7 linked regions of the Homo sapiens genome follow. The protein of the gene in region 5 purifies or fractionates together with the protein of the main gene of each other region. This does not show direct contact. Each region holds a gene or a part of one and is shown on either strand. Other genes may lie near its edges.

Region 1 (4,415 bases), about 140 Mb from region 5:
AGTGTTTTCCCCACCTTTCCCCCTTTTCTATTCCACAAAACCGCCATTGTCATCCTGGCCCGTTCTCAATGAGCTGTTGGGTACACCTCCCAGACGGGGTGGTGGCCGGGCAGAGGGGCTCCTCACTTCCCAGTAGGGGCAGCCGGGCAGAGGCGCCCCTCACCTCCCGGACGGGGCGGCTGGCCGGGCGGGGGGCTGACCCCCTCACCTCCCTCCCGGACGGGCTGGCTGCCCGGCGGAGACACTTCTCACTTCCCAGACGGGGCGGCTGCCGGGCGGAGGGGCTCCTCACTTCTCAGACAGGGCGGCCGGGCAGAGACGCTCCTCACCTCCCAGACGGGGTCGCGGCCGGGCAGAGACGCTCCTCACTTCCTAGATGGGATGGCGGCCGGGCAGAGACGCTCCTCACTTTCCAGACTGGGCAGCCTGGCAGAGAGGCTCCTCATATCCCAGACGATGGGCCGCCAGGCAGAGACGCTCCTCACTTCCCAGACGGGGTGGTGGCCGGGCAGAGGCTGCAATCTCGGCACTTTGGGAGGCCAAGGCAGGCGGCTGGGAGGTGGAGGTTGTAGCGAGCCGAGATCACGCCACTGCACTCCAGCCTGGGCACCATTGAGCACTGAGTGAACGAGACTCCGTCTGCAATCCCGGCACCTCGGGAGGCCGAGGCTGGCGGATCACTCGCGTTTAGGAGCTGGAGACCGGCCCGGCCAACACAGCGAAACCCCGTCTCCACCAAAAAAATACGAAAACCAGTCAGGCGTGGTGGCGCGCGCCTGCAATCGCAGGCACTCGGCAGGTTGAGGCAGGAGAATCAGGCAGGGAGGTTGCAGTGAGCCGAGATGGCAGCAGTACAGTCCAGCTTCAGCTTGGCATCAGAGGGAGACCGTGTAAAGAGAGGGAGAGGGAGACCATGGGGAGAGGGAGAGGGAGGCCATGGGGAGAGGGAGAGGGAAAGGGGGAGGGGGAGGGGAGGGGGGGAGGGAGGGAAGGCAAGGGAGAGGGAGAGGGAGAGGGAGAAAATATTATCTTGTATATCAAGGTTGTATAGATGACCTCACCTGGTTTGGTGTCTTCCCACAGCCTGTCCTGGGGGAACAGAGAGGCCCTGCGGTGGCTACGGGCAGTGTGAAGGAGAAGGGACACGAGGGGGCAGCGGGCACTGTGACTGCCAAGCCGGCTACGGGGGTGAGGCCTGTGGCCAGTGTGGCCTTGGCTACTTTGAGGCAGAACGCAACGCCAGCCATCTGGTATGTTCGGGTAGGTAGCCAAAAGGTGTGGCACTGGGCAGGGGCAGATGGGGCACCTGCCTGCCCATCCTCATGCTGCCCCCATTCCACCCAGCTTGTTTTGGCCCCTGTGCCCGATGCTCAGGACCTGAGGAATCAAACTGTTTGCAATGCAAGAAGGGCTGGGCCCTGCATCACCTCAAGTGTGTAGGTAAGTGGGGCCCTAGCTAGGTCTGGGAAGATGGTCAGGGGCCTGGGCTTGGTCCTTTATTCTCTCAACACAAGCCTGGGCTAGACTAGCCTAGTCTCCACCTTCATGGAGATCTCAACCTGGCTGGGAAGGCAGAAAAGTAACCAGATACTTACAGTCCAGTACACAGGTACTGTGTAGTATAGTCCCTGTGTACAGTGAGAGATGCCTCTGATCTAGTTCAGTGGAAGTGGTGATGGGGAATCAGGAAAGGCTTCTTGGAGGAGGCGTTACTTTGGCCAAGTCCTAAAAATTGAGGAAGGGGCTGGGCGCGGTGGCTCACGCCTGTAATCCCAGCACTTTGGGAGGCCAAGGCGGGCAGATCATGAGATCAGGAGATCGAGACCATCCTGGCTAACATGGTGAAACCCTGTCTCAACTAAAAATACAAAAAATTAGCTGGGCGTGGTGGCGGGTGCCTGTAGTCCCAGCTACTCAGGAGGCTGAGGCAGGAGAAGGGCATGAACCTGGGAGGCGGAGCTTGCAGTGAGCCGAGATCGCACCACTGCACTCCAGTCTGGGCAACAGAGGGAGACTCCATCTCAAAAAAAAAAAAAAAAAAAAAAAAAAATGAGGAAGGGTTGGCTAGGAGAATGAGGACACTGAACTTGGGGTCAGGAAACCTGGGTTCAAGACTTGGTTTGGTCCCAGCCTAGCCACTTATATAGACTAAAGTAAAGGCTAAGCTGCTGTAACAAAAATCCCCAAAAGACTGTGGCTTAAAGAGTATAGAGGTTGGCTGGGTGTGGTAGCTCACTCACGCCTCTAATCCCAGCACTTTGAGAGGCTGAAGTGGGGTGGATCACCTGAGGTCAGGAGTTCGAGACCAGCCTGGCCAACATGGCAAAACCCTGTCTGTACTAAAAATACAAAAATTTAGCCAGGCATGGTGGCAGGTGCCTGTAATCCCAGCTACTCGGGAGGCAGAGGCAGGAGAGTCGCTTGAATCCAGGAGGCAGAGGTTGCAGTGAGCCAAGATCACACCATTGCACTCTAGCCTGGGTGACAAGAGCGAAACTCCATCTCAAAAAAAAAAAAAAGAATCTAGAGGGTAGAGGTTTATTTTTTTTTATCATATTACAGTCCCAAAGTGAGTAGTCCAGGCTGGCAGGGGAGCTCTGCTAGTCATAATCATTCCAGTACCCAGATTATTCCTGTAACTTACTGCACAATCATCCCCTTGGGCGTTGTCTGCATGGTTGAAGCTGAGTCCTGGGCATCTCTGTGTCCCACATGCCAGCACTCAGGAAGGGAGAAGGGAAAGAAAGTGCATTGAGGAGTCCAAGCATTGTTTTAAGACCAAGCTAACGGTGGAGCTCATCACTCCTGTTTACATCCTGTTGGCCAGAACTCAATCACAGGGACACACTTAGCTTCAAGACAGGTTGGCAAATGTGGTCTCTGGCTGGGCAGCCTGAAGTCCAGCTAGTCTGCTTCTGTGTTGGTAGACAGCTTGCAGTCTCTGCCATACCATTTAATCCCAGGCAAGACCATTCCCCAACGGCTCTGGCTTCAGCTTCCCTACTAAATAGGGATTGAAATTCTCACCCTGCTCACCTCTCTGCAGACATTGATGAGTGTGGCACAGAGGGAGCCAACTGTGGAGCTGACCAATTCTGCGTGAACACTGAGGGCTCCTATGAGTGCCGAGGTCAGTGTCTACTTCTGCAGAGGAGGGGACGTGAGGAGTGGAGGAAGAGCTGCTCCACACCTGTCCCTCCAAACCTTCCCCTTCTCAGGCTTCAGAGCACCCCCAGGCCTCCGCTTCTGGAGCGTGGCTCCCCTGGGCCTAGGTGCACATCTCACCCTCATCTTTCTCTCCTCTCTCCAGACTGTGCCAAGGCCTGCCTAGGCTGCATGGGGGCAGGGCCAGGTCGCTGTAAGAAGTGTAGCCCTGGCTATCAGCAGGTGGGCTCCAAGTGTCTCGGTGAGTCTCCTGCTGATGGGACACAGGCACCTGGGAGTGCCTCACCCAGCATGAATGGTGAAGAGGCTGGAATATGGGCAGGTGGGGGAAGGAAGGGTGGAATGTTGCCTGGGCAAGGGCAGAGGGGAGTGTTGAGAGATGGACAAGATGGAGTCAGGGTGCTGGGTGGGGGGCCCTAGCAGGACTCTGACCCCTCCCTCCCCTCAAGATGTGGATGAGTGTGAGACAGAGGTGTGTCCGGGAGAGAACAAGCAGTGTGAAAACACCGAGGGCGGTTATCGCTGCATCTGTGCCGAGGGCTACAAGCAGATGGAAGGCATCTGTGTGAAGGAGCAGATCCCAGGTGAGCCCTGGGGCGGGAGAGGGGAGGTCCTCATTCAAAGAGAAGGCAGGCAAGCCCCTTCCCCAGGTAGCAGTGGCAGCTCCAGGCCCTGCCCCATCCCTACTGCCACCCAGCCCCCTGGAGGCTGCACTGAGACCGGGCTCTACATCTGATCTCCAGGTTGGCTCTCAGCAGCCTTATACCTTCCAGGGTACAAAGGGAATCAGACCTGGCATCAAATCAGTCTGCCTCCTTAACCTGTTTCCTCATCTATCCAATGGGACCAGTGTTTGCCCTGGCCTGCTGAGAGCTGTCCTAGGCCGGGGGTGTGGTGAGATGCAGGGTAATCACAACGATGATGGCAGGGACCATTTCCCCAGCAATTACTGTGTCAGATGCTGTTCTAGGTGCATTCCCCATCTTAACTGATTTAACCCCTGAAACAACCCGACGCTGGAAGTTGGGTTCTCATCCCCACTCTACATATGTAAAAATGAAGATGCAGAGAGATGAAGCTACTTTCCCAGGGCTATATGGCAAGCAAGTCGCAAAGCTGGGATCCCAATCCAGACAGTCTGACCGTGGAACGAGACTCATACACGTAATAAATGCTCTGCCCCCAACTTGTCCACCACATGGCCTTGGCAAGTCCAACCCCTTTACCTCTCTGAGCCTCACTTTCCCATT
Region 2 (4,415 bases), on a different chromosome or scaffold from region 5:
GGTATAAAGGCTGGGGCCCAGGGATTGAGGTGAACATTGGGGAGCCATCAGCACACAGATCACCACTTCTCAAACTTTAATGCTCACAGGAGATACCAGGGACTCGCTAAAATGCAGATTTGGGCCTGGCGCAGTGGCTCATGCCTGTAATCCCAGCACTTTGGGAGGCCAAGGCAGGTGGATCACAAGGTCAGGAGTTCAAGACCAGTCTGGACAAGATGGTGAAACCCTGTCTGTACTAAGAACGCAAAAATTAGCCAGGCATGGTGGCATGTGCCTGTAATCCCAGCTACTCGGGAGGCTGAGGCAGGATAATTGCTTGAACCCAGGATACGGAGGTTGCAGTGAGCCAAGATTGCACCACTGCACTCCAGCCTGGGCGACAGAGCAAGACTCCGCCTGGGAAAAAAAAAAATGCAGATTCCAGTTCAGTAGGTCTGGGATAGGGCCGAGATTTTGCTTTTTTTTTGAGATGGAGTTTCGCTCTTGTTGCCCAGGCTGGAGTGCAATGGTGTGCTCTTGGCTCACTACAAGCTCTGCCTCCCAGGTTCAAGCAATTCTCCTGCCTCAGCCTCCCAAGTAGCTGGAATTACAAGCATACACCACACCCGGCTAATTTTGTATTTTTTTTTTTTTTTTTTTGTTAGTAGAGACAGGGTTTCTCCATGTTGGTCAGGCTGGTCTCGAACTCCCGACCTCAGGTGATCAGCTGGCCTGGACCTCCCAACGTGCTGGGATTACACACGTGAGTCACCATGCCCGGCCAAATTTTGCTATTCTAATAAACTTCCAAATGTTGCTGACACTGCCAGTCCCTAGAACACACTTTAAGTAGCTGTAGTTTTTTTGTTTTTGTTTTTGTTTTTTTGTTTTGAGTCAGGGTCTTGCTGTGTTGCTCAGGCTGGAGTGTGTGGCATGAACTTGGTTTACTGTAGCTTGGACCTCCCAGGCTCATGTGATCCTCCCACCTCAGCCTCCCAAGGAATGAGAACACAGACAGGTGTATACTACCATGCCTGGTTAATTTTTAAATTTTTTTATAGAGACAGTGTCTGGCTATGTTGTCAGGGCTGGTATTGGACTCCTGGGCTCAACCAGTCCTCCCACCATGGCCTCCCAAAGTGCTAGGATTACAGGCATGAGCCACCGAGCCTGGCCCTGAAAATTTAAATTAAGGTCTTAATCCTAGGTGCATATGAAAGTCATTGCAGTGCTTTTTATGTTTATTTTTATTTATTTATTTTTTTTGAGATGAAGTTGCACTCTGTTGCCCAGGCTGGAGTGCAGTGGTGCAATCTCGGCTCACTGCAACCTCTGTCTCCCAGGTCCAAGTGATTCTCCTGCCTCAGCCTCCCTAGTAGCTGGGATTATAGGCGCCCGCCACCCTGTCCCGCTAATTTTTGTATTTTTAGTAGAGACGGGGTTTCACCATCTTGGCCAAGCTGGTCTTGAACTCCTGACCTTGTGATCCACCCGCCTTGGCTTCCCAAATTGCTGGGATTACAGGCATGAGCCACTGCGCCTGGCCAGAGTGCTTTTTATTTTTTATTTTTTTATTTTTGAGATAGGGTCTCACTCTGTCACCCAAGCCAGAGTGTGGTAGCACAATCATAGCTCATATAACCTTGAACTGCTGGGCTCAAGTGATCGTCCCACCTCAGCCTCCTGAGTAGCTGGGACTACAAATGAGTGCCACCACACCCAGCTGGTATTTTTTTTCTTTCTTTTTTTTTTTTCTTTTTGCTGTTCTTGATCTCCCGGGCTCAAGTGATCCTCCCACTCTGACTTCCCAAAGTGGATAAGAAGCATGAGCCGCTGTGCCCAGCCTTCAGTGGGGTGCTCTATTTATTTATTTATTTTTGAGACGGAGCCTTGCTGTGTCATCCAGACTGGAGTGCAGTGTGGCGCAATCTCGGCTGACTGTAAACTCCACCTCCTGGGTTCAAGCGATTCTCCTGCCTCAGCCTCCCGAGTAACTGGGACTACAGGCGCCTGCCACCACGCCCAGCTAATTTTTATACTTTTAGTAGAGATGGGGTTTCACAATGTTGGCCAGGATAGTCTCGATCTCTTGACCTCGTGATCTGCCCACCTCGGCCTCCCAAAGTGCTGGGATTACAGGCGTGAGCCACCCTGCCAGGCTACTTTTGACACCCCCAAAATCCAGCCAGGTGCAGTGGCTCACCTCTGTAATTCCAGCACTTTGGGAGGCCGAGGTGGGAGGATTGCTTGAGCCCAGGAGTTTGAGATCAGCCTGGAAAATAGAGGGAAACCCAGCCTCTATAAAAATTGTAAAAATTAGTTGAGTGTGGTGGCGCACACCTGTAATCCCAGCTACTCAGGAGGCAGTGGTGGGAGGATTGCTTGAGTTGGGAGGTCAAGTCTGCAGTGAGCCATGATCATACCACTGTACTCCAGCCTGGGCAACAGAGTGAGATCCTGTCTCAAAACAAAAAATCTTAACTACTAATAGCCCACTGTTGTCCAGAGGTCTCAGTGATTACATAACAGTCAATTAACTTATTTTTTTATGTGAGCCAAAGATTTATGTCTTCATTTCTTGCATTTGAAGTACTCTTGGATGACATCCTTGGCCTGAGACTCCTTGCCATAGTCCTTAACTACTACACAACTGCAACCAACCACTTTACAGGGTTTCCCTTCTCTCAATTTTACAGAGCGCTACCCATTCCCCTAGTTTCTTGTTGTCATCAACCTTAATTAAGTTGATTTGGTGCTCAGCACAAAGGGACTCCACCAGCTTGACATACATAGGCTTATCACAGTTGGATCAAGCACACAAAGATGGGCTTGGCGCTTGTCTAAGGCTTTGGCAGCTTCACAGATTCCACGTGCTAGGCCATCGTGGATGAGGGCGGTCTTCAGCACCTCTTGTAAAGCAGTATTAACATCCATTACACCTCCAGCAGCAATGCCTCCCTCGGCCATGGCAGTGGGTTATGGGTGAAGCTGAATCTTGAACATACCCAAGCCTCCGCCTCCGCGCAACTCGGCAGTGGCAGGGAAAGGGTGATTAACATATTTTTTAATGTTATATATATATATAATACTATAATCTTACAATAAGCTGAAGAAAAGAAAATGTTATTAAGAAAATCAGGAAAACACATTGAATTTACTATTCATTAGGTGGAAGTGGATCATCATAAAGGTCTTCATTCTCATCGTCTTCACATTGAGTAAGCTGAGGAGGAGGAGGAAGAGGAGGGGTTGGTCCTGCTGTCTTAGGGGTGGCAGAGGCAGAAGAGGTGGTGGAGGAGGTAGATGGAGAGGCAGGCACATTCAGCTGTAACTTTTTTTTCTTTCACTCTGTCACCCAGGCTGGAGTGCAGTGGTGGGATCTCAGCTCACTGCAAGCTCCGCCTCCCGGGTTCACACCATTCTCCTGCCTCAGCCTCCTGAGTAGCTGGGACTACAGGTGCCTGCCACCACGCCTGGCTATTTTTTTTGTATTTTTAGTAGAGATGGGGTTTCACCGTGTTAACCAGGATGGTCTCGATCTCCTGACCTCGTGATCCACCCGCCTCACCCTCCCAAAGTGCTGGGATTACAGGCGTGAGCCACCGTGCCCGACCTTTTTTCTTTTTACTAGCCCCTCAGTGTTTAAAGTTGTAACTTTTATTTAATTAAATTTAATTAATTAATTTTTTTGAGACAGAGTCTCACTCGGTCACCCAGGCTGGAGTGCAGTGGCGCGATCTCAGCTTACTGTAACATTGCCTCCCAGGTGCAAGCAATTCTCCCACCTCAGCCTCCTGAGTAGCTGGGATTACAGGCATGTACCACCATGACTGGCTAATTTTTTTTTTTTTTACCGGGGCGTTCCTGAGTTTACGTGGGGCACACCTGGGTGAGGGCCCTACCCCTAGAAGAAGGTGTTGGGCCTTTTGGTGGTGAAGCGTGGCTTGTGCTGATGGCGCAGGACCTGGTGGGGCAGCGGGAACTTGATCTTGGAGTCTTGGAACTGCTTGACGGCCAGCCGGTGGGACTTGCTGGCTGCTATCTCCTCCATCTTCATGATCTGGATGGAATGGGTCCAGGTGGGGTACCGGGCGCCCATGTCTCGGTAGCACTGGGTGACAGCGCCCGTGGTGGTCAGGTCCCAATATTCCTGGTACATGTTGTGGGTGCTGCTCTGGGAGTTTGTAGCGCAGCCAGATGCCGAAGTTCTTCACCCGCAGGCGGTACTTCTCGAATGCCTGCCCACAGTTGACAGTCTCCCCGAAGACTTCTTCATCTTCTTTAGCTGAGATACAAAGTACCAGAAGTGGGACTTGGCAACGACATGATCAGGTGCAAAGATTCGCATGTGGTAGAGGGGTGGTGTGTGGCATTTGGGAGTGAGCAGGCAGCAACCCACCACCTTGTACTCTTGTAGTGTGCCCGAGGCCTTC
Region 3 (4,415 bases), on a different chromosome or scaffold from region 5:
GTCTGGGCATACTGCAGCCTGGGTGACAGAGCAACTCTGTCTAAAAAAGAAAAAAAATTAGAAGAGATTCTGGGGTGGAACCTTAAAAACCTCCTGATTTAAAGAAGAAGTTCAGGAGAAGAGGATGCTGCCATGAAGACTGGGAAAGAGGAAGCAGATGGCTAGATGAAGAGAGGAAGGGCAGTGACCCCAGGGAGGCTGCAGGAAGATAAGGGCAGTGACAGTGGGCCATCCAGTGGGGTAAAGAACTGAAACACGTGTGTATGATTTCATGATGAGATCATTTCAGGCTTCCTGAGAGCACTAGTAAAGGAGCATAAGCCGAATTTGAGTGATTAGAATCCTTTTCTCAGCACTGATATTCATTAGTGTGTAATGGGGTCTTTCCATTACCTCCTTTGCTTCCTTGCCTTTTGGCTAAAGTCAGGTTAAATATATATCACTTCTGATTATGTGCCCTCCTCAACAAAGACATTTCTGTTTGTCTGCATGTCACGCTATGTGATTGACACCACACGACCATATGAATTATGTAGTGTAGGAAAGGACAATATGTGTACTTACACAGGTAATCTTTCTAGCAAGAGTTTTATTTAAAAATACCATGAAGAATCAAGTTTACTAGGAAATATTGGATTTAAACAAGGCTCAATATTCAAAACTTTCTAAATAATTCCCAGATCTTGTACTGTAACATGACCATGATATAAAAACACAAACTATACTAACCAGGGTAGTTTTAAGTAGTGATGCTAAGTAGTACATGCTAAAAGAGTTTGGCATGTACTCTGAAGATTTAATTTGATGTATTTCTCCTGAAAATCTGAAAATTTTGAATCTGAAAATTCTCTTTAGCTAGTAATGCTGATATTCACACATGTGGTTACAACTTCAGCAGAAGGACATCTCTAGTGTTGACTCTTCCTTTCCTTATCTTGTCTCCTGCTTCGTGAAAGATCAGAAATAATATGGGACAGTTGTCTAAAACTCTGTAGATGAAATGTTCAAGTATAGCCTGACCTAAATCCAGAGAACTGAAAGACAAAAAAGGACTTTTAAGGAAAAAAATATGATTAGACAGCAACTAAATAAATAAAAGAATAAATGACTTCTGTTTTATACCTACAGGCTGTTGTCTGCCATTCTCAGAGTTTCAGAAGTTGAATCTCGAGCAATAAGAGCAGATCTCACTCATCTACTAAGTCCCCAGATGGGCAAAGATATTGTTTGGTTTTTAAAACGCTGGGCAAAGACTTATCTCCTGGTGGATGAAAAACTGTATGATCAGGTCAGAATGTAAAACTTAAAACTTCATTTGGATTTATGATGATAGCAGTTATAGAAGCAGGAACATTTTTCTTGGTGGTTTTTCATCAAAATAGAACTGTTTAAGAGCAGTTTAACATTTTCTGTGTGGAAGAGAATTATGTGACTGGAATGCTGTTTTAATGTGTTTTTGAGCACATCCCTTGATATCGTTTATTTTAACTGCTGTTGAAGATACAGATTATTATTTGGGAATAGATTATGCTTTTTTGTATTTGGTTTAATACTATGTTAATTTTTTAATACTATGGGAATAATAGAAGTTGACGGGAAAATCACACTGGAAAATGTGAGTGGATTGAGGATGTCTTTTTTTTTGACCAGTGGAAATGAGTACATGTGTAAAGTTGATGTGAAGTAAGCACTACTTCAGATTAGATACTAATTTCAGTTCGATTTTTCTCTGTTTTTTTTTTCTTGAGTTGATCTTTCTTGCTTACCTTAAAAAATTTGTTTCCTCTCTTAAGATAAGTCTGCCATTCAGTACAGCGTTCGGAGCAGATACAGAGGGTTCTCAGTGGATAATTGGCTACCTCTTACAAAAAGTCATCAGTAACCTCTCAGTCTGGAGTAGTGAGCAGGACCTTGCAAATGACACTGTGCAGCTCCTTGTCACTTTGGTGGAAAGAAGAGAAAGGTTAGCCCATTGTTGGAGGCTGACTGTGTGTGTATGTGTGTGGGTGAGAAACTCTTTTTCACTTCTTAGTGTAGTCCTTTGAACTGGCAAATGGTTACACGGTCCTAATTCCAGATAGAGCCTACATTTTTGGAGTAATGGGTTTTAAAAACTATGTCACAGTACTATTACAAATGCAAATGGAGCTTTCCCATCTTATAATTGAGCATTACATTGACTCCTTCAGGATTTGGCATCAAAGCCCTATGAGTAACACATTAGTAATTTATCGTGTTGCAAACACTTTTATGTGGAATATGCTCATTTGAATTTTTAGACATCCCCATTTTAAAGATTAAATACTGATATTTAAAATTTAATGTTGGAAAGTAAAATTTTTAGTGCTTTCTACAACAATTCTAGAAATGTTTTCGTTGTTCTTACTGTATAGGAGTATCATTGTTATTATTACCATTGTCATTGTCTGGTTTATTGAATTCTTATAATTTACTATGTACTCTTCTAAGCATGTCATAGGTAGTATCTCATTTAATCATTATATCAGTCTCAGCCCCAGGAGACTGTTATTATTCCTATTTTGCAGATTATAGAGAAGTGATGATTGATAGAGGTTAAATAAATTTTACATCACCAGACAACTAGTGGGATTTGAATGTAAGCCTGTGACTTCAAAGTCTATACTAAGTTTACTGTACTTTGCTTTAACAGTAATTAAATCTAGTTATTTTTTATTTTTGTTTTCTTTGTGTGTATATGTGTATGTGTGTATGTATATACATAGTAATACATCTTATGTTTTGTTATTTCTACCTGTAGGGCAAACTTAGTAATTCAATGTGAGAACTGGTGGAATTTAGCTAAGCAGTTTGCAAGCCGAAGCCCACCTCTTAATTTCTTGTCAAGTCCTGTGCAGAGGACATTGATGAAGGCTCTAGTCTTAGGAGGTTTTGCACATATGGACACAGAAACCAAACAGCAGTATTGGACAGAGGTAACAGTGCTGTCTATTTTGATTGCACCCTTTTGTGTAACTCTGTAGTTCCTTTATCTATGCGTTGCCGTAAGAGTCTCTGGAGACATAAATGTATCAGTCATAGCTTTTCTTTCTTTCTTTCTTTCTTTTTTTTTTTTTTCTGAGATAGGGTCTTACTCTGTTGCCCAGGCTGGAGTACAGTGGTGCAGTCTCAGCTCATTGCAGCCTCTACCTCCCAGGTTCAAGCGATTCTCCTGCCTCAGCCTCCCAAGTGGCTGGGACTACAGACTCATGCCACCATACCCAGCTAATTTTTGTTTTTTTTAGTAGAGACGGGCTTTTGCCATGTTGGCCAGGCTGGTCTCGAACTCCTGGCCTCAAGCAATCTGCCCGCCTTGGCCTCCCAAAGTGCTGGGATTACAGATGTGACCAGCCACTGTGCCCGGCCCAGTCATAGCTTTTCTGATATTTTTTCTCCTAATGAATGGGTTGAAGCTTCTTATTTTACAAATGTTGTCTTATAATTTTTCTGTACCTGCCTGTGTGTGATGACATTGAATATTATCAAGTGTTCTGCATTTTAGGCACATTTTTCACAACTCAGTCGAGAGCATGGACTGGCTTATTAAATTTTCATTAGGGATCAGGGAAATATTCTCCTGTCTTGAATAAGATGCAGATTAACCATGATATTCATTTCCTAGGGCTGCTCTAACAAAATACCACAACAGAAATTTGTTTTCTCCTACTTCTGGAGGCTAGAAGTCCAAGCTATAAGGTGTCCATGGGATTTGTTCTTTCTGAAGGCTATGAGGGAAAATCTGTAGCCTCTGGTAGCTTGCTGGCAGTCTTTGGCATTCCTTGATTTGTAAACGCATCACCCTGATCCCTGCCTTCATCTTCACATGCTCCCCCTGTGTGTGTCTGCATCCACACTTCCCCTTTCTATATCAGTTATATTGAACTAGGGGCCCACCCTATTCCGGTATGACCTCATCTGAACTAATTACATCTATGACAACCCTATTTTCTTTTTTTTTGAGACGGAGTCTTGCTCTGTCACTCAGGCTGGAGTGCAGTGGTGTGATCTTGGCTCACTGCAACCTCCACCTCCTGGGTCAAGCGACTCTCCTGTCTCAGCCTCCTAAGTAGGTGGGATTACAGGTGCGCACCACCATGCCTGGCTAATTTTTGTATTTTTAGTAGAGACGGGGTTTTGCCATGTTGGCCAGGCTGGTCTCCTGACCTCAAGTGATCCGCCCACCTCAGCCTTCCAAAACGTTGGGATTACAGGTGTGAGCCACTGCATCCGGCCAACTCTATTATCAAATAAGTTCATATCCTGGGGTTTGGATTTCCACATATGAGTTTTTGAGGAACACAGTTTGACCCATAACAACAACCATGGGCACATTATTTAATAGGCTTTAAATCAAGGGCCAAGAGTTGCCAGTGTGTGTAGGTTGCCAGCCTGCAGTC
Region 4 (4,415 bases), on a different chromosome or scaffold from region 5:
CTCTTCTGCTTTCCCCCTGCTTGGTAACTGGGCTCCCACTACTTATCATCTCACTGGCTGGTGCTAGCTGGTGCTCATTAATTACCCCAAGCAGGAAGTGTAGCCATCTATTCTTTCAGAGCAAGGCAGACAAAAGAAAAGTGTGCCAGGTTCACCCAACCCAATGCACCTCATGTCCTCTCTACCCTCTCTCCTCCTCCCACTCTGGTTAGTATGCTCCCAGCACCAACTCTTGCATGTAGCCAGTTCCTGAACAGTACCATCCTGACTTAACAGGAGGAAGAAAAGATAATGAAAGATTTGTGGGGTCAGGGAAGCAGAGAACCACCCTTGTTTAGAGCCTGACAGGAGTCTCAGACATCTAAGGACTCTTAATTTAAAGGAGGAGTCACTGGAAGAACTGTGCGTGATTCCTATGTCAATCTAGGTCTCAAAAAGATGCATCATTTACCTGGCTCAAACAAAGGATTGTACAAACAAATCAAAAAATGACTTGATGAAATGATTTAATAAAATAATTATCACATGTCAAGCATTTTTATAATATACATAGAGTCTTTAGTTCTATTTGACTGGGTCATAACATTTAAGAATTAAGTGATATCTCCATGTAGGATCCTTAGAGACGACTTGTTTCGGGGCAGGATGTGGTCAGGGGACATGCCATTGAAACAATACCCCAACTTGTCTTCCCACTCAATGACATTTCAAAATCAGAATAAACCCAAGAAGCTAAATAAAAACAGACTTACCCAATATTGCAGGAGTGCTTCTATAGCTCTAAACTCAAAAGGTAAAGGGTATGTAACGAGTTGACCCTCTCCAGACAACTGTGAAGGGAGTTCCCGGAACAGCCATTGCTCTAAGTTTAAATTACGATAATCTAATATCAGAAGACACTCTGGAGTTATCACAGCTTTCAAATACTGTTAAAAAAAAAAAAACCAAAACATATAAATATGTGAGTGTATATACACACATGCATGTATATACATATATATGTATACATACATATATATATGCAAATTGTAGAGCTGTAGGAAAAAAGAACATTCATAAAATTTGGTTTAATACTTTACTAATTGTGGATTAAGACTAAACCAAATCAGTGTTCATTTTTGTTTTTCAAAAAAATCAAGGTTTTTTTTTTCAAAAGAAAAGAAACTTAAAAAATATATGTCTTGATACTGCTAACTCACTCTCAATAAAACTGGAATTATTCACATAAATTATATATTTACTAAGACTTCTGGGGTAATCATGAAAAAAAAACAAAAACAAAAAAAAAAACACCAAAAAATACCCCCAGAAAGCCGGGCATGGTGGCTCATGCCTGTAATCCCAGCACTTTTGGAGGCTGAGGAAGGTGGATCATGAGGTCAAGAGATCGAGACCATCCTGGCCAACATGGTGAAACCCCGTCTCTACTAAAAATACAAAAATCAGTTAGGCGTGGTGGCCCACACCTGTAGTCCCAGCTACTTCAGAGGCTGAGGCAGGAGAATCGCTTGAACCTGGGAGGCGGAGTTTGCAGTGAGCTGAGATTGTGCCACTGCACTCCAGCCTGGCGACAGAGCGAGACTCCGTCTTTCTTTTTTGGAAAAAATAAATAAATAAATAAAGGGAACAAGATAAGGTCTTCCTAAAAGTCAGGTATTGAGCAGACTTTTAGAAAAGATTTAGTTTAATCATAATTAGTTTGGCACAAATGGAAGTTTCCTTTTTAAAACACCACTAAAGCATATAAACAAAATCTGAAATTAAGATGAAACATAGCCTTACTACTCTAATTTAGAACAATATGAAATTAGAATTTTTTCTAAAAAGACTGGTTATCTTGTATGTTAAAAGTAGATAAAGGTAGCCACTTTATCAGTGATATAGAAATTAGAGATAATTTTCTATTTTTACATTTTTCCAACATTCTATCATGAATTTTTTTTTCTTTTTTTTTTTTGAGATGGAAGTCTTGCTCTGTCACCCAGGCTGGAGTGCAGTGGGGCAATCTCGGCTCACTGCAACCTCCACCTTCAGGGTTCAAGCTATTCTCCTACCTCAGCCTCCTGAGTAGCTGGAATTACAGGCACCCGCCACCATGCCTGGCTAATTTTTGTATTTTTTAGTAGAGACGGGGTTTCACCATGTTGGTCAGGCTGGTCTCGAACTCCTGACCTCAGGTGATCCACCCCTCTCGGCCTCCCAAAGTGCTGGGATTACAGATGTGAGCCACCACAACCTAGCCTCATGAAAATTTTTATACAGAAAAGTTGAAAGATTGCAGTGAACACCATATACCCACCAGTTAGATTACACAATTATCATTCTGCTGAATTTGCTTTTTCACATACCTGTCTGTCTCTCCATGAAAGAGACACTGTTTTGAAGAATGCTAGCTACTGATTCCAAGAGTAGAGAATATTTCTGAAGAAAATCACATGGGAGAAGACTGCTTCATTTTTGATAAAGTATTTTTTATTTACTTATTTATTTTTAGAGATGGGATCTTGCTATGTTGCTTAGGCTGGTCACAAACTCCTGGTCTCTGGTGACCCTCCCACTTCAGCCTCCTGAGTAGCTGGGACTAAAGGCACATGCTACCAATACTGGCCCATTTTTTATTATTTTGATTAGTTCTAGAAAAATGAACAAAAATCTGCCATCAAAGACTCTTTGAAGAAAGTCTCATACCCACTACAGGGCCAATACCATTCATCTATTTTTGAACCTAAACATTAGCCCACCAAAATAACTGAAACCCACATTAACTCTGAATCACTAAAGAAAGTCAAATTATTATTTGGCATGCTCTGAATAGGTAAGGGAAAATACAATATATTTCAGAAAGTTTTCCATTAAAAAAATTTAAACTGGCCAGGCACGGTGGCTCATGCCTGTAATCCCAGCACTTTGGGAGGCAGAGGCAGGTGGATCACCTGAGGTCGGGAGTTTCAGAGCAGCCTGACCAACATGGAGAAACCCCATGTCTACTAAAAATACAAAATTAGCTGGGTTTGGTGGCTTATGCCTGTAATCCCAGCTACTCAGAAGGCTGAGGCAGGAGAATTGCTTGAACCTGGGAGGTGGAGGTTGCAGTGAGCCAAGATCGTGCCAGCCTGGGCAACAAGAGCAAAACTCCATCTCAAAAAAAAAATTAAGGCTATAAAATTTAATGTCTATTCCTGTGCTATTTAGAAAGCCAGAATACATTTTTGGTAGCTCAGGTTATACTATAATTACATGTAACTGTACACAATTGGATATATATCTATTATAAATCAGGATTGTCTTATAGTTTCCAGAACTAGAGAGTAAATCCCAACAGTGAGAATGAACACCACAGTCAGAGCTTTTCCAACTTAAAACACAGCAGTGTTATGCCTATTGAACATGTGCATATAATCCATATAAAATGAGTTCTACTCATAATAGCATATTAAGCTATAAAACATCCTATGTTTCAGGTAGCTATTTCTATTCCAAAATTACTTTTAACCTAGATACTAATCAAGATAGTTAGAAGGTAACTTTTATAAGATTGTATTGGAGAAACATAGATGAAAATAAAATATTTTACCTCCATTCTCATGATAATCCTATTGTTTCTGACTGTGATACTCATTACATGCTGAAATCTCAAATCTCTGGCTTGAAGACCTAACTCTTGGTATAATTCAGTTTTCTTCCTTTCTATAAAAGAAATAAACAGAGAGGGCTAAACCAAATACATTAAATGGCTTAGATTTTTCCATCAGAGCAGTCCTCCCACCACCATCAAGACAATTTTTGGTTACTACCAGAAACAAAAACTAAAATTAAGTCTTTTAATATCCATTTTTACCTAGAAAACATACTCGGGCTAAATAGAGTCAAACTAATGATTTTCTTATCTATACCTCATAACTTTCTCACTACTTAGAAGACCCTTGAGACTAATACAGAAACCACAACTATGCATCATTAGAACCTATAAATGTCCAGCTCTAGAGACAGGTTATCTCTCTTAAATATAAACTGTACACAACTATATTTTCTATTTTTACTACAACATCATCTTCAGTATTTTATATATGTGAACAGATAAGCTTGATTTTCTTTGTTCTTAGACTAATACAAAAATGAGAAAAGCTGAATTTATTACCTGAGACTGATTCATTCTCAAGGGAGATGTGAAACTCACATCTGAAGTCACACTGTAAAGTAATGCCTAGTCTCACTTTTTAAAGTAGCTGTCCACAGAGAGCCATCAGCAGCAGAGTTCCATGTGGCTGCCATGCAGTGACATGGCCCTGTTCATCTTTTGTCACCCACTGCAATGTCAGTGGTATTATGTGACTCTGCCTTAAACATGCTTCAGGAGAATGAATGAGGGCAGTGAAAGGGACGCCAACAAGAGAGACAAAAGAGAAAAAGAGTGT
Region 5 (4,415 bases):
TAACACCTGTTTCTGATTTTAGTTCCTCCGAACGCAGGGGTGTATGGTTGGTGGCCCCCCTCATCGCCAGGTTGCCAACTTCTGTGCAAGGAAGAGTGCTGAAAGCCGCTGGGGAAGAGCTGGAGAAGGGACAGCACTTGGGTTCTTCTTCCAAAAAGGAAAGGGACAGACAGAAACAGAAAAGGTGTGGCTGGAAGATGGGCGTCTGTGTGAGAGTTTAAAGAATAATTGAGAAAGTCTCACTTCCTGTAAACCTGTGTGGTCACTGTACCCACAGTCCACTGAAATTTAGTTTTTAAATGGAACTGGGAATATTCTATTAGGCAAGGCTGTCTTATTCCTAAAAAATTTCAGGTTATAATCCTTAATACATTAGTTCTCAATTCTGCCTTTATATCCAAATCACTGCTGAACTGTTAAAAACAGTGATTTCCGAGACCCGCTTTAGACCAACTGAATCAGATCTGGATAGCTACCTGATCCCTGTATTTTATTTTTAATTATTTCTATTTTTTTATTATTTAGATATTTATGTTTAAAATAAATATAATGTATAATTCTGGCATGTTGGTGTCTGAACTAGTTGCTCATATTTTTAACATTTAGGGCTCCTGTTCTAGACTAGACATTAAGACTCCTCGGCCACCACAACTAATGTTTTCTTAATTTATTTTATGCCCAAGAAAAGGTTTCAAGTAATTATATTTGAAAACCGTGTTACTGAGAAAGAAAGAAACCTCACCCTAATGTGAAAATGCCAAGAAACCTAGGAGTAAAGGAAAAAAATTGATAATTTCTTCCATTAAAAAAATATTTTAAGCACATAGATTTCTTGTCCACTAATGAATAATACTATAGTAGCCACCATTTATTGACTGCTTACAGAATGGCAACTCCTCTCTAAAACTCATTATGTACATGAGCTTTTAAAATTCTTATAGCAATCATGTGGTAGGTACTCTCATTATCTTCTTTATATCATGTTGAAACAGACACTTAAAGGTTACATGAGTTGCTCCAGGACACACAGTGAAGGACATAAAGCCTGGGTTTAAATCCAGGAGGTCTGGCTTCTGAGCTTGTGCTCTTAACTACAGTACATTTTGGTAGAGACCCAGCATTGTATGTACTGTATTTGTTTTACATCTGGTTGTTTTACCATGTTGGCCAGGATTAATTAACCAACAAGGAAGCATAATTCTAATTTTCAAATCATATTTGCTGATAGGTGAGTGTATGTGCATTGCCTAACTTCCCATAGGCAGGACAGATGGTATTGAAGAGACTTGAAAGATCGCTCTTCCCACATCAGGGGCTCTTTATTCTGCCCATGGAGAATAATGCTGATTGAAATATTTTGGCCTAGGTCTCATTTTAAGAAATTTGTCTTTCCAACATGGCGCTTTGTTTGTCAATATGATTTGTTGATTATTCTCTAATTGAAGACATTTTGTTAAAATGCCAATTTAAAACAGAATTTTTAACCAAATGCCTTGACACCTCTTTACCAGTGGATGCTGCGGGCTATGTTGGAGCCTGTGGGCTGTGTTGGAGCTGCACACTAGGGGTCGCCAGCAAGTACACTGTTTTTGGAGTCCTCAGCCCTGGCTGATGAATTAGCTCTACTAACACCCTGCTTTTTGGTCTTGGGAAATGTGCTGAAAAACAAAATCAAACCCCAAAACAAGCTCAACAGACATATATATAGGCCTGTTTTCCCAGACTCTAAAACAAGAGTTTTATATGAGAACTTTAAAAATTTTTAATTTTATCCTGTGTATAAATTGATATTCTTTCTGATGTACATTTTTAAATTCTGCATATTGATGTAGAAGATGAATTCACTGTCTTCTACCCTCACTGCCCGGCATGCTCACATGCAGTATGGTTTGATGCTAGTTTGAGAATGGCTTCGAGGGCAATTAGAGCATACGAAGTGATTTAGAAGCATTACAGTGGCTTTTAATTTTATAAGTAGAGGTATGATTTAAATTTTCAAGCAGTCTTTGGCTATTTACCACCTCTCTTATTTATCTAATAGTGAGGCAAAGAAATGAATGTTGCCAGAGGAAGTAATGCATTATTTCTAACTAGATCTGTTGTTATTATTACTTCCTTTGTAGTATGTCTCTTTTGAGTCAACAACCCTTCCTCTCACTGGTACTTACCTGCCTTAAGGGACAAGATGAACAAAGGGAAGGCCTCCTAACATCTCTCCAGAATCAAGTTAACCAGGTAAAGTATAGTATAATATTAAGACAGGCAAATATCTTTCTAACGGCATTCATTTATTTGCCTTTCAAATACTGAGATTAAATTAATAAGGGCCAGGTGTGGTGGCTCATGCCTGTAATCCCAGCACTTTGGGAGGCGGAGGCTGGTGGATCACCTGAGGCCAGGAGTTCGAGACCAGCCTGGCCAACATGGTGAAACCCCGTCTGTACTAAAAATACAAAAATTAGCCGGGCATGATGGTGTGCGCCTATGATCCCAGCTACTCGGGAGGCCAAGGCAGGAGAATTGCTTGAACCTGGGAGGCAGAGGCTGCAGTGAGCTGAGATCGCGCCATTGCACACCAGCCTGGGAAACAATAGTGAAACTCTGTCTCAAAAAAAAAAAAAAAAAACAACTAGTAAGGTTACAAAATGTTTTGAGTAGACGCTGAGAAACAATCCATGCCTTATTCTTCTACCTGGCATTGTAGACACCACAAGATTAACAACTTTATATTAATGAGATATATACAATAAATGTGTACTGCCTATAAAAGTAAAATTTTATATATTGCATATAACTTTGAACTATCTGCCCGTCTCCTAACTCTGCCTCATAGGAGAGGACCTGGAGCAATCTATGCTGCAGTAGGCATGGCAGTGAGTCCAGCTCCTCAAGCTTGGATGCCACATTATCAGGCACGCTTTCAGCTTGAAATCTGTAGGTTCAGAAACTCAGTTGTATTGATGCCAACCAAGTACACAAGAAATAAATCAGAAGGCATGTTGGTTTATTTAGAAATAATTTGGACATTGCCTTTTCACCAAACACAGTTCTCCTGGTCACTGTTTGAGGCTCTTGCATCTATGTACTATAAGGAAACTGAGCATTCACAACAGAAATTGGAGAGCATGGAATTAAGCAAAGTGGATAGATTGGTCTTATGAGGTGTTTTATCCTGATACACAGCCTAATTGACCCCTTCTTGTGGCACTGTGTTTCTATGACACCATGTCTTTCCCTCGAATGGTACTAGATGGACATGGACAAGGACACTTAATCTTATTTGATCCTCTTGTCATTTCTCACCTTTTGGGTAGGAGAGATCTAGATATAGCAATCATAGTGAACCTTTTTAAATGGAAGTCACATATTACCTCAGTATACCTAGTATAAAAAATTCGGGCTGATAAGGCCAGACATGATTTGACACTGGCTCTCTCTCCTACCTTGTCTCCTACCAGTCATGGCCCTCTTTCCTCCATGGTTGTTGCACTGGCCATGTTACTGTTCTTGAACTTGCTGAGCAAATTCTCATTTCAGTGCCTGTGCATCTTTTCTTCCCTTTAGGTGGAAAGATTCCCTTCCAGAGATTAGCATGGCCTGCTCCCTTCATTCAGTTCTCTGTTAAGATGTTACCTCCTTCGGGAGGCCTTTGATCACCTCTAAAAATAGGACCACAGCCATTCTGTATGCCATTGCCATGCCTCAAACCACTTGTTACACTTAGTTTTATTTGTCCCACTACTATTATTTGAGCTCCATGAGAGCTTGTTGTTTAGTTAACTACCTTGCCCCCTTAAGCCAGCCTTAGGGAGGGGTTCATTTCTTCTGATGAGATTTGGGAAGTGCTTTCCTCTCACCTTGCAGGGTACTTACAGGTCATCTGTTGGGATGGAGTACTTCTGCATGTGACTCATTTGAACTCTTTTAAGATGACTCTCATTAATGACCATATTTCAGAGCATGATAGGGTTTTTGTTAGTGGTTTTTTGTTTTTGTTTTGAATTGCACTTTTTTTTTGCTCATCTCATCTGATTTTAGGGTGTTGCCCACTTGTGGCTCCCTTTCCTAAGCAAATTTTTCCTTTTCCAGCATTAGTGTGAGTCAGTGAGGAAGTGAAGAAGCAGCCCACTTTATAAACTGATAAAGCCACTTGGCTGATGTCTGCAATGCCATATTTTTCAAAGTACCGTGCGTTCTCTTTATCAAGGAAGACACATACATAAGATAGCAGACCTTCTCTTCTATAAAACATCAAAATAATACATTTGCTAGGGTTCAGCAAGTCCCTAGAAATATAACAGGACTGAGGCAAAATGTAATTCTCTCTCTCCAGTGTTTTTCTTCGTAAGATCAATGAGGTAATGTATTTTAAAAGTTTTTATTAATGCTTAATTTGATGGCCCTCTCAAGCATTT
Region 6 (4,415 bases), on a different chromosome or scaffold from region 5:
TGCTTTAGGCTATATAAAGCAGTCTAAAACTGTTCATGCTCCCAAATCATTTGGTGTCTAGTTGAAGAGAGAAACAAGTTTAAAGAGTTAAGTAACAACAAGATGCCAGTGTTTGGTGTTTTTCATTTGTTTTTGAAACAGGGTCTTGCTCTGTCGCCTAGGCTGGAGTACAGTGATGTGAATCTCAAGGGATCCTCAGCTACTGAGTAGCCAGGACTACAGACATTCAACACCATGCCTGGCTAGTTTTTATATTTTTTGTAGAGATGGCATTTCACCATGTTGCCCAGGTTGGTCTTGAACTCCTGGCCTCAAGTGATCCTCCCACCTTGGCCTCCAGTATTTGATTGTCAGATGAGTGATAAAAGTCATGATTGGTATGAGATCAGACGAGGGAAAGCTCTAGACCAAAAAGAGTTGGAATAACTTTATGGAAGGGGAGGGATTTAAATGAAGCCATGAATTAGAGGTAGAATTTTGATGGATTAGAGAGGCAGATAGTCATACTGCCTCTAAGCCAAGATCAGAGCAAGTCAGAATAGTACTAAGTTTGTTAGTAGACAACTAAGCAGTGGGAGTAGTAAAGTGCTTCACAGGAATTTCGAAGGTAGGTTTGATTAGATGTGGAGTAGAATTGTAGACAGGGGAGAGCAGTGAAGAAGTAAGTATTCTGCATTCTATTTAGGCTATTCATTTAAGAAGTTTGGCAGTAAAAGAGAGAAGAAAATAACTAGAAGGGAAAGGCAATTTAAAAAATATTTTTCTCAAGGTATTAGAAATACATGTGTATTTAAAGACCACAAGAAGGGCCAGGCGCAGTGGCTCACGCCTGTAATCCCAGCACTTTGGGAGGCCAAGGCGTGCAGATCACTTGAGGTCAGGAGTTCAAGACCAGCCTGGCCAACATGGTGAAACCCTGTCTCTACTAAAAATACAAAAATTAGCCAAGTGTGGTAGTGTATGCCTGTAATCCCAGTTTCTAGGGAGGCTGAGGCAGGAGAATTGCTTGAACCCAGGGGATGGAGGTTTCAGTTAGCTAAGATCAGGCCACTGCACTCCAGCCTGGGTGACAGAGCAAGACGCTGTCTCAGAAAAAAAAAAATTAAAGACCGCAAGAAGAAAAAAAGGGTTTTTTTTTTTTCGATAGAAAAAATTAGATCTCTGATAGACGTCTTCAATTCTAATTTCAGTTGGTTTTGTTTTGTTTTGTTTTGTTGTGACTTGGGGTTCCGGCTGTGTTACCCAGACAGACTGTAGTGGCCATTCACAGGCGAGATCCCACTACAGATCAGAATGGAATTTTGACCCACTCTGTTTCTGACTTGGGCTGTTCACCCCTCCCTCCTTAGGCAACCCAGGAGTGGTTCCTCACTCCTGGGAGGTCACCACATTGATGCTGAACTTAGTACAGGCACCCAATTGGTATAGCATGCTCTAGCCCAGAACACTGGGTTCAAGCTGTTCCCCTACCTGCGCCTTTGGAGTGGCTGGGACTATGGTGTGTGCTGCCATGCCAGGCTGACTTAGTTTTTAAAAAAGGAAATAGGAACACAAGTTATTTTTCACATTAAAAAAAAATTAATACCATCACATAGAAGATGAAGAGAAAAAAATTTTAAAAATTGCTAACTTTAATTCTTAACCATGTTTTCTGCCTTCAAATCATGAAAAATCTAAGCATTAATCTCTGTTGAAACCCATGTTCATTCCTTGGATACTAATAAACTCCTTCATTTTCTTTCTAAAGACAAAAAACTTCTGGACTTTGTGAATCCAGCTGTCATTTTACACACACCTGCATACACACACACACAGCCACGCGTGCACACACACACACACTTTCCTATTAAAGAGAAATTACTAAAGGGGAAAGAGTGCTTGGTCTTTGGGAAGTTGAGACTAGAATTTATCTGATGTTCCTGCTTTCCTACATACAGCATGAAGAAGACTTTGAATTACGGAAAGAACTGATTGGACAGGTGATGAACCAGCTTGGACAGCAGCTTGTCAGCCAGCTGCTGCACACCTGCTGCTTTTGCCTCCCCCCCTATACCCTACCAGATGTGGCTGAAGTGCTCTGGGAGATCATGCAGGTTGACAGACCGGTAAGATTGTTTTCATGAGGAATTTATCTCATAGTCCCTAAATGTAATAGGCTTTGGTTCCTTAAGGCCAACCCTAATTTTGAAACTAGCCCTGTTTTCTGTCCATGGAACCAAATTTAGGCATATTGCCAAATTAGATTGGTAGATGAAGAGGCCCGTAAAGATCAGTAATTTATTATTGAGTTCTTTAAAGCATGTTTCTATGTCACTGTCATAGGGGGTATATTACCAGAAGTAAGTATCAAGCATTGAATTCAGTTGTGTGGCTGTCCAATGTGAAATTTGTTCACTTGTGAGAGATGCCCAAATGTCAGTTATATTAGTTACGTATTACTCAAGAAGTATTTAATCCTTTCAGACTTATTCTATAGCACTGTATTATTTCTTGGTGATACATCTAGCCAGAACATTTGGAAGCACATAATTGTCAAAGTAACCCACAATGTACAGTTGGATATATTTCCCCTTTGGATTTCTTTGAACCAGATCCTTTATCACCCACCTAAGGATGGAGTTGTTTTTTTAAAGCTATCTAATAATGCCCAAGTAATTTCAGTACTGGGCCACATGACCATAACTCAGGTTATGTGTACTGTGTGAAAGTTGAGTAGAATGGTAAAGTATAATATAACCTGAAATCATTTTTAAAATGGAATTTATAATTTTTAATATTACTGTAAAAGCAGTTCAGGAAAGTACTCATTGGGACCTAGTTAAAGTGAGCTGTCTTACAGAACCACAGAATATAAAATTGATAATAATAATATATAACAGATAGTACCTATTCCTCTCTGGTTCAATACACATGTTCCATTTCAACCTGATAGAGTAGCATATTTGTTTTTCTAAAGAAAAGTACTTTTTGAGCCTCCAGGAATCAGCAAATTTAATTCAAAAGTCCTTGACCTGAGGGAAAAAGTCTTCATACTCTGCTTAAACTTTTTTACAAATACATTTGGTTCCCAAGTAACAGAAAACTTATGTAAATCTAACTTTATGAAAACATTCTTGATTGTAAGCATATTGTTAAGTGCGAACAACAACAACAAAAAATGAGAACAAGAAGTTTGGACAGGAATAGAAACCAGGTAGCCATGTACTCTAAGGAGTGTACTGTATATCAGCCAGACACAATGGCTCATGCCTGTCTTCCCAATACTTTGGGAGACCAAGGCAGGAGGATCACTTGACGCCAGGAGCTTGAGACTACCAGCCTGGGCAACATAGACCCCATCCCTACAAAAAAAAAAAAAATTTTTTTTCTTTTTAATTAGCTGGGTGTGGTGGCATACATCTATAGTCCCAGCTACTCAGGAGGGTGAGGTAGGAGGATTGCTTAAGCCCAGGAGTTCCAGCCTGCAGTGAGCTATGATCATGCCACTGCACTCCAGTCTGAGCTGCATAGCAAGACCCTGTCTCAAAAAAGAAAAAGTTTGCTATATAACAACTATTATGTATTTTTAAGAATTAAGGAGCTGTTATGTATCCATAATTAAGAAATGCTTAGTACTTCATGAGCATTTATAATACTTTTGCTCTGGCCTATTATGGCCATAAATGAATATGATGGGAAAATATATAATGTAAAAAAAATTAGGTATAAAAGAGTAATTTTACAGCCCAAAACTATGACTGAAGTATACATTCCACTTAAGAAAGGGATGAAGAAATATTAGTGCTGACCCAAAGGACAACAATTAAACTGAAAATAAGAACCCAGAGGAAGTCTGTAGAATTTTTATTTTAGAAAGGAAGGAAGTAAAGGGAGTAGACAATTTTTGTGCATAGAAAAGGCATAAAGAGAATTCTTAGATATACTTATATAAAAAATATATAAGTAAATTAAACAGCAACAAGAGCAAGGTTTTTTAACACAAAGAACAGGCAGATATCACAAAGGAACTGAATGGATAGGACTTATTCTGAGAGAGATGGCCTTAAAATCCTTAAGATTCTGGACTCATATGTCTCATATGTATACTTTCTGACATGGTGGCTTAGTATACTTTTTGCCCCTGCTCTTTCAGGTATCTGAACCTTTACTCTGGATCACTTTTGATCTTTAAGCTCAAGAGTTTTTGGAAATCTGTTTAATTTTAAAAATATACTGGTCAAGTGCTTACACCTGTAGTTCCAGCACTTTGGGAGGATCTCTTGAGCCCAGGAGTTTGAGACCAGTCTGGGCAACATAGAAAGACTCCTCATCTCTTAAAAAAAAAAATTGTTTTTAATTAGCCAGGCATGTTGATGGACTTCTGTAGTCTGAGCTACCTGGGAAGCTGAGGTGGGAGGATCACTTGAGGCTGGAAG
Region 7 (4,415 bases), on a different chromosome or scaffold from region 5:
AGGCCCATAAGAATTGTGTCAAAGGATGTGAACATTTATAAGTTTTTTTGTAAATACAAACCTATGATATACATACGTATTAATATTTATGTAACTTCAAAATAAGATTACACTTTAGATCAAGCTTGTCCAACCCGTGGCCTGTGGGCCGCAGGTGGCCTACGGCTTTGAATCTGGTCCAGCACAAATTTGTAAACTTTGTTAAAACATGAGGTTTTTTTTTTTGTTTTCTTTAGCTCATCAGCTGTCATTAGTGTTAGTATATTTTATGTGTGGGCCAAGATAATAATTCTTCCAGTATGGCCCAGGGAAGCCAAAAGATTGGACACTCTGCTTTAGATAATATAATTTTTTATCTGTTTCTCATGTAGAATATATATTATGAGCATTTTCCCATGTTGTAAATGTTTTTAATAACATATAAGGAAAATCTTATACTTCCGGTTATATCCCTGTTATGATCTTTATACAAAATATTTTTATTACATTTCATTTTGGGTTACCAACCTTTTGAGTTCCTTCTTAACAAAAAGCTTCTGGGTAAGTAGGCAGTTGAGAGCAGAACAGTAGCTCTTAACTGGAATGGTGAGAACTCTTCTCAGTGTTGGCAGTTTTAGGGGACTTAATAAACAATACCCTTTTCTACCATTCAAATTGAGCCACTTGAAAGAATAAAGGGAATCAGGCAGATGGAGGTCTGGTAGTGTATGGCCCAGCCTACTTGGGGTGTCTCTGTCCTCTCCCATCCTTATATTTTAGAACATAGGAACTAATTATGACTACAGTCATAAGCTGCTTGATGCTGCCAGTTACTAACCTTCCCCACATATTTTATCTTTTTTTTTTTTTTGAGATAGGGTCTTACTCCTGTCATCCAGGCTGGAGTGCAGTGGCATGATCATGGCTCACTGCAGCCTCAAGTTCCTGAGCTCAGGTGATTCTCCCACCTCAGCCTTCCAAGTAGCTGGGACCACAGACGGGTGCCACCATGCCCGGCTAATTTTTGTATTTTTTGTAGAGATGGGGTTTCACCATGTTGCCCAGGGGTCTGGAATTCCTGGGCTCAAGCAATCTGCTTGCCTCTGCCTCCCGAAGTGCTGGGATTACAGGTGTATGTCACTGCGCCTGGCCACCCTATGGTTAATTTTTGATCCTGCTTTTATGACATGGATTTTAGCAGGAGGGTATCAACATACTGTACTTTTCTGTTGTTTGGTGTGTCTTTGTTGGCTTCATTTATCTTTGGAATATTGCTGACGAGTCCCAGAAGCTGTGGTACAGAACTGTCCGTTCCCATTCATCTACTTTCCCATGTGAATCCAATTCTGTTTAAGCATGTGTCTTTCAGCGATGATGCCTAAAGCCATTCACTAAATTTAGATCTCTGAAGTCTGTTACTAAAGACCCCATTTTGCTAATATCTCTGGGTATGCCATTACTCTAGGAGCAATTGAGATTGAGACATATTTTAGTTCTCTGCTGTCAAATGTAAGCCTCCAGGTACTGTTCAGCTGGAGTTTGCAGGCTGTAGGGCTGTTCACGTCCATTATTGCTTTATGAGGTGTTCTCTGTTGTTTACAGTTTGTAGAGGCTCATTTAGGAACTCTGTCTATATGTCCAGGCCAGTCAAAGCCAGATATCTGTAACTTTAATTTCATGTGGAATTCATTCTCAGGCTTCCTAGGGCTTTAATTTCATGGACACAGAAGCCACGCATTTTACCTAACCTCTATAAAGTACTGGTATTATTAGCCACTTTGCTAAATCTCTGGTAATCTTCATTTGATCAGGCCCCGACCCTAAGTTTAAAGTGACTCCCTAAAATCCAGTCAGTGTCTGCTACTTACACCTCACATTTAAATTGATCTCTTAACACTGATGTTTTTGTTTATCCGCTTGTGCCTCCTTTAAATTGTTATTTTCCCAAAGGTCACATTCTCAGAAGTGGTAGCTTGGTGAGGCGAATTTAACTCCTTGTATCAAAAATGAAGTTTGATGGACCTCAATGGTCAGTCATCTTCTGAAACACAAGCTCACTACTCTGGCCTGACAAAGTGCCAGGATTGACCTTGGAAAAGTGCCAGAGGTGAGGGCCAGGCCTTCCTAATCCTGGGCCCTCCATTCTTTAGAGATTCAGTTGGCCTGTTCTCCTACCAAAATTGTGTTACCCTGTTCTGAGCCTTAATGAGAGTTATTTATAGCTTCTGCTGTCTCATGAGAACTGGGTATCTTAAATTGATAGCTGGCAATCCTGCTGGCAAGATTTGTGGCTTTATAATTTGAACAACCCCAGTTGTTTGCTGTTAAAGTGTCCTGACCTCATCTGGTGATGCCTGCTTGACCAGTATCCCAGATCTCTAGATGTCTATCAACCTCCTTATGTCTGGCCGTTCTTCCACTGTGGATGCTGCCCTTACATTCTCTCTTGGGGCCAATCTGATTGTTATACTGTTTATTATTGAGAATTTTAGGCCTATAGCCATCCATTTGTTTGTGGGCGCATGTGTGTTTTTCTAATATCTTCTTACAAAATTAACAGTGTGTGTATTTAAGAGACAATGTCGCACTGTTTTGCCCAGGCTGCAGTGTGTTGGTGTAATTATTGCTCACTGTAGCCTTGAACTCTTGGACACAGTGGTCCTCCTGCCTTAGCTTCCTGGGTAGCTGCGACTACAGGTGTGCAGCACCACACCTAGCTAATTAATTTTTTTTGGTAGAAACAGGATCTCACTATGTTGTCCAGTCTGGTCTCAAACTCCTGGGCTCAAGCCATCGTCTTGGCTCAGCCTCCCAAAGTGCTCGGATTAACCTTGTGGTTTTATCCTAAACAGCAATAAATGAATGGTATTCTAATTCTCTGTGAAGCTAACTTGGCTAGGTTGTCTTTGCCTGAGCTTCTTAACTTGTCCACATAAATAAATCACTATAATCTGGGGTTAACTGAGTATTCCTTGGAGTTTGCAGGGTTCTGAAAGAACCTAATAAACACACAGCTTGGTGAAATGTGAGTTATGTTTCTAAACTTATGACCTCTAAAGTTATTTGTTGTTTGTATGTAAGAATAAGTGGTGGAAAGATAAGCCCCCGAAAATTCTCGATTAGTAATTTATGTTAATTGTATTTTTTCAGTATATTATTATAGAAAGACAGGAAAGGTAAAAGGCACCAAATATGACTTTGGCTGATAATATTTCTGTTTTTTACTCTGAATTCAAGGTAAATTAGCTATTTTGTTTTATTTCTTCTTCTTTTTTTAATAGGGTTACACATCATTTTGGAATGACTGTATATCATCTGGATTACGTGGCTGTATGTTAATTGAATTAGCATTGAGAGGAAGGTTACAACTAGAGGCTTGTGGAATGAGACGTAAAAGTCTATTAACAAGAAAGGTAAGAGGAGTGCTGAGTAACATTCTTTTTAAAGAGGTTGTACTGCTTAAAATGTATGTTTTTACTAGTAGCCTTCAAAAATTAAAGTGGAAGTTGATATTAAAGTTGTCTTTCTTCAATTGTATTTCCATATCTTTTTTGCATTCTTGGTTTCCTGGTTCTTTCACCTACAATGAGTAATGTAATTGATTGTTAAGGTAACCGGCCACTGGATCTTACAAATTCAGAAAGATTCTAGACTTCATTTGCAGCTTTTATTTATTTATTTATTTTTAATTTTATTTTATTATTATTATTTTTTATTGATCATTCTTGGGTGTTTCTCGCAGAGGGGGATTTGGCAGGGTCACAGGACAATAGTGGAGGGAAGGTCAGCAGATAAACAAGTGAACAAAGGTCTCTGGTTTTCCTAGGCAGAGGACCCTGCGGCCTTCCGCAGTGTTTGTGTCCCTGGGTACTTGAGATTAGGGAGTGGTGATGACTCTTAAGGAGCATGCTGCCTTCAAGCATCTGTTTAACAAAGCACATCTTGCACCGCCCTTAATCCATTCAACCCTGAGTGGATACAGCACATGTTTCAGAGAGCACAGGGTTGGGTTTAAGGTCACCGATCAACAGGATCCCAAGGCAGAAGAATTTTTCTTAGTGTAGAACAAAATGAAAAGTCTCCCATGTCTACCTCTTTCTACACAGACACGGCAACCATCCGATTTCTCAATCTTTTCCCCACCTTTCCCCACTTTCTATTCCACAAAACCGCCCTTGTCATCATGGCCCGTTCTCAGTGAGCTGTTGGGTACACCTCCCAGACGGGGTGGTGGCCGGGCAGAGGGGCTCCTCACTTCCCAGTAGGCGCGGCCGGGCAGAGGCGCCCCTCACCTCCCGGACGGGGCGGCTGGCCGGGCGGGGGGCTGACCCCCCCCACCTCCCTCCTGGACGGGGCAGCTGGCCGGACAGAGGGGCTCCTCACTTCCCAGTAGGGGCGGCCGGGCAGAGGCGCCCCTCACCTCCCGGACGGGGCGG

Evidence for each region.
Region 1: the proteins of P2RY12 (region 5) and CRELD1 purify together in Homo sapiens (affinity purification with mass spectrometry; 3 studies listed by BioGRID and IntAct, with this or other methods). This does not show direct contact.
Region 2: the proteins of P2RY12 (region 5) and ECSIT purify together in Homo sapiens (affinity purification with mass spectrometry; 3 studies listed by BioGRID and IntAct, with this or other methods). This does not show direct contact.
Region 3: the proteins of P2RY12 (region 5) and XPO4 purify together in Homo sapiens (affinity purification with mass spectrometry; 3 studies listed by BioGRID and IntAct, with this or other methods). This does not show direct contact.
Region 4: the proteins of P2RY12 (region 5) and MRS2 purify together in Homo sapiens (affinity purification with mass spectrometry; 3 studies listed by BioGRID and IntAct, with this or other methods). This does not show direct contact.
Region 6: the proteins of P2RY12 (region 5) and TNPO3 purify together in Homo sapiens (affinity purification with mass spectrometry; 3 studies listed by BioGRID and IntAct, with this or other methods). This does not show direct contact.
Region 7: the proteins of P2RY12 (region 5) and GOLPH3 purify together in Homo sapiens (affinity purification with mass spectrometry; 3 studies listed by BioGRID and IntAct, with this or other methods). This does not show direct contact.

The regions. Positions count from the first base shown.
Region 1 is NC_000003.12:9,939,767-9,944,181, forward strand, and holds part of CRELD1 (protein disulfide isomerase CRELD1 isoform 2 precursor), read left to right. Parts: intron 1-1,083; coding exon 1,084-1,260; intron 1,261-1,344; coding exon 1,345-1,440; intron 1,441-3,046; coding exon 3,047-3,130; exon of another isoform or gene 3,131-3,131; intron 3,132-3,310; coding exon 3,311-3,406; intron 3,407-3,614; coding exon 3,615-3,749; intron 3,750-3,908; coding exon of another isoform or gene 3,909-3,985; exon of another isoform or gene 3,986-4,123; coding exon of another isoform or gene 4,124-4,329; exon of another isoform or gene 4,330-4,415. UniProt on the Homo sapiens protein: Protein disulfide isomerase. Promotes the localization of acetylcholine receptors (AChRs) to the plasma membrane.
Region 2 is NC_000019.10:11,521,970-11,526,384, reverse strand, and holds part of ECSIT (evolutionarily conserved signaling intermediate in Toll pathway, mitochondrial isoform 1 precursor), read left to right. Parts: intron 1-2,531; exon of another isoform or gene 2,532-3,029; intron 3,030-3,834; exon of another isoform or gene 3,835-4,415.
Region 3 is NC_000013.11:20,797,704-20,802,118, reverse strand, and holds part of XPO4 (exportin-4), read left to right. Parts: intron 1-1,128; coding exon 1,129-1,288; intron 1,289-1,793; coding exon 1,794-1,963; intron 1,964-2,779; coding exon 2,780-2,954; intron 2,955-4,415. UniProt on the Homo sapiens protein: Mediates the nuclear export of proteins (cargos), such as EIF5A, SMAD3 and isoform M2 of PKM (PKM2). In the nucleus binds cooperatively to its cargo and to the GTPase Ran in its active GTP-bound form.
Region 4 is NC_000006.12:24,408,733-24,413,147, reverse strand, and holds part of MRS2 (magnesium transporter MRS2 homolog, mitochondrial isoform b precursor), read right to left. Parts: intron 3,688-4,415; coding exon 3,575-3,687; intron 2,422-3,574; coding exon of another isoform or gene 2,349-2,421; intron 927-2,348; coding exon 753-926; intron 1-752. UniProt on the Homo sapiens protein: Magnesium transporter that mediates the influx of magnesium into the mitochondrial matrix and regulates magnesium metabolism. Also permeable to calcium, sodium and potassium ions.
Region 5 is NC_000003.12:151,377,990-151,382,404, forward strand, and holds part of P2RY12 (P2Y purinoceptor 12), read right to left. Parts: intron 2,236-4,415; coding exon of another isoform or gene 2,124-2,235; intron 185-2,123; coding exon of another isoform or gene 23-184; intron 1-22. Other genes in the region: MED12L (mediator of RNA polymerase II transcription subunit 12-like protein), read left to right, coding at 23-184, 2,124-2,235. UniProt on the Homo sapiens protein: Receptor for ADP and ATP coupled to G-proteins that inhibit the adenylyl cyclase second messenger system. Not activated by UDP and UTP. Required for normal platelet aggregation and blood coagulation.
Region 6 is NC_000007.14:128,967,838-128,972,252, reverse strand, and holds part of TNPO3 (transportin-3), read left to right. Parts: intron 1-1,937; coding exon 1,938-2,105; intron 2,106-4,415. UniProt on the Homo sapiens protein: Importin, which transports target proteins into the nucleus. Specifically mediates the nuclear import of splicing factor serine/arginine (SR) proteins, such as RBM4, SFRS1 and SFRS2, by recognizing phosphorylated SR domains.
Region 7 is NC_000005.10:32,142,726-32,147,140, reverse strand, and holds part of GOLPH3 (Golgi phosphoprotein 3), read left to right. Parts: intron 1-3,260; coding exon 3,261-3,392; intron 3,393-4,415. UniProt on the Homo sapiens protein: Phosphatidylinositol-4-phosphate-binding protein that links Golgi membranes to the cytoskeleton and may participate in the tensile force required for vesicle budding from the Golgi.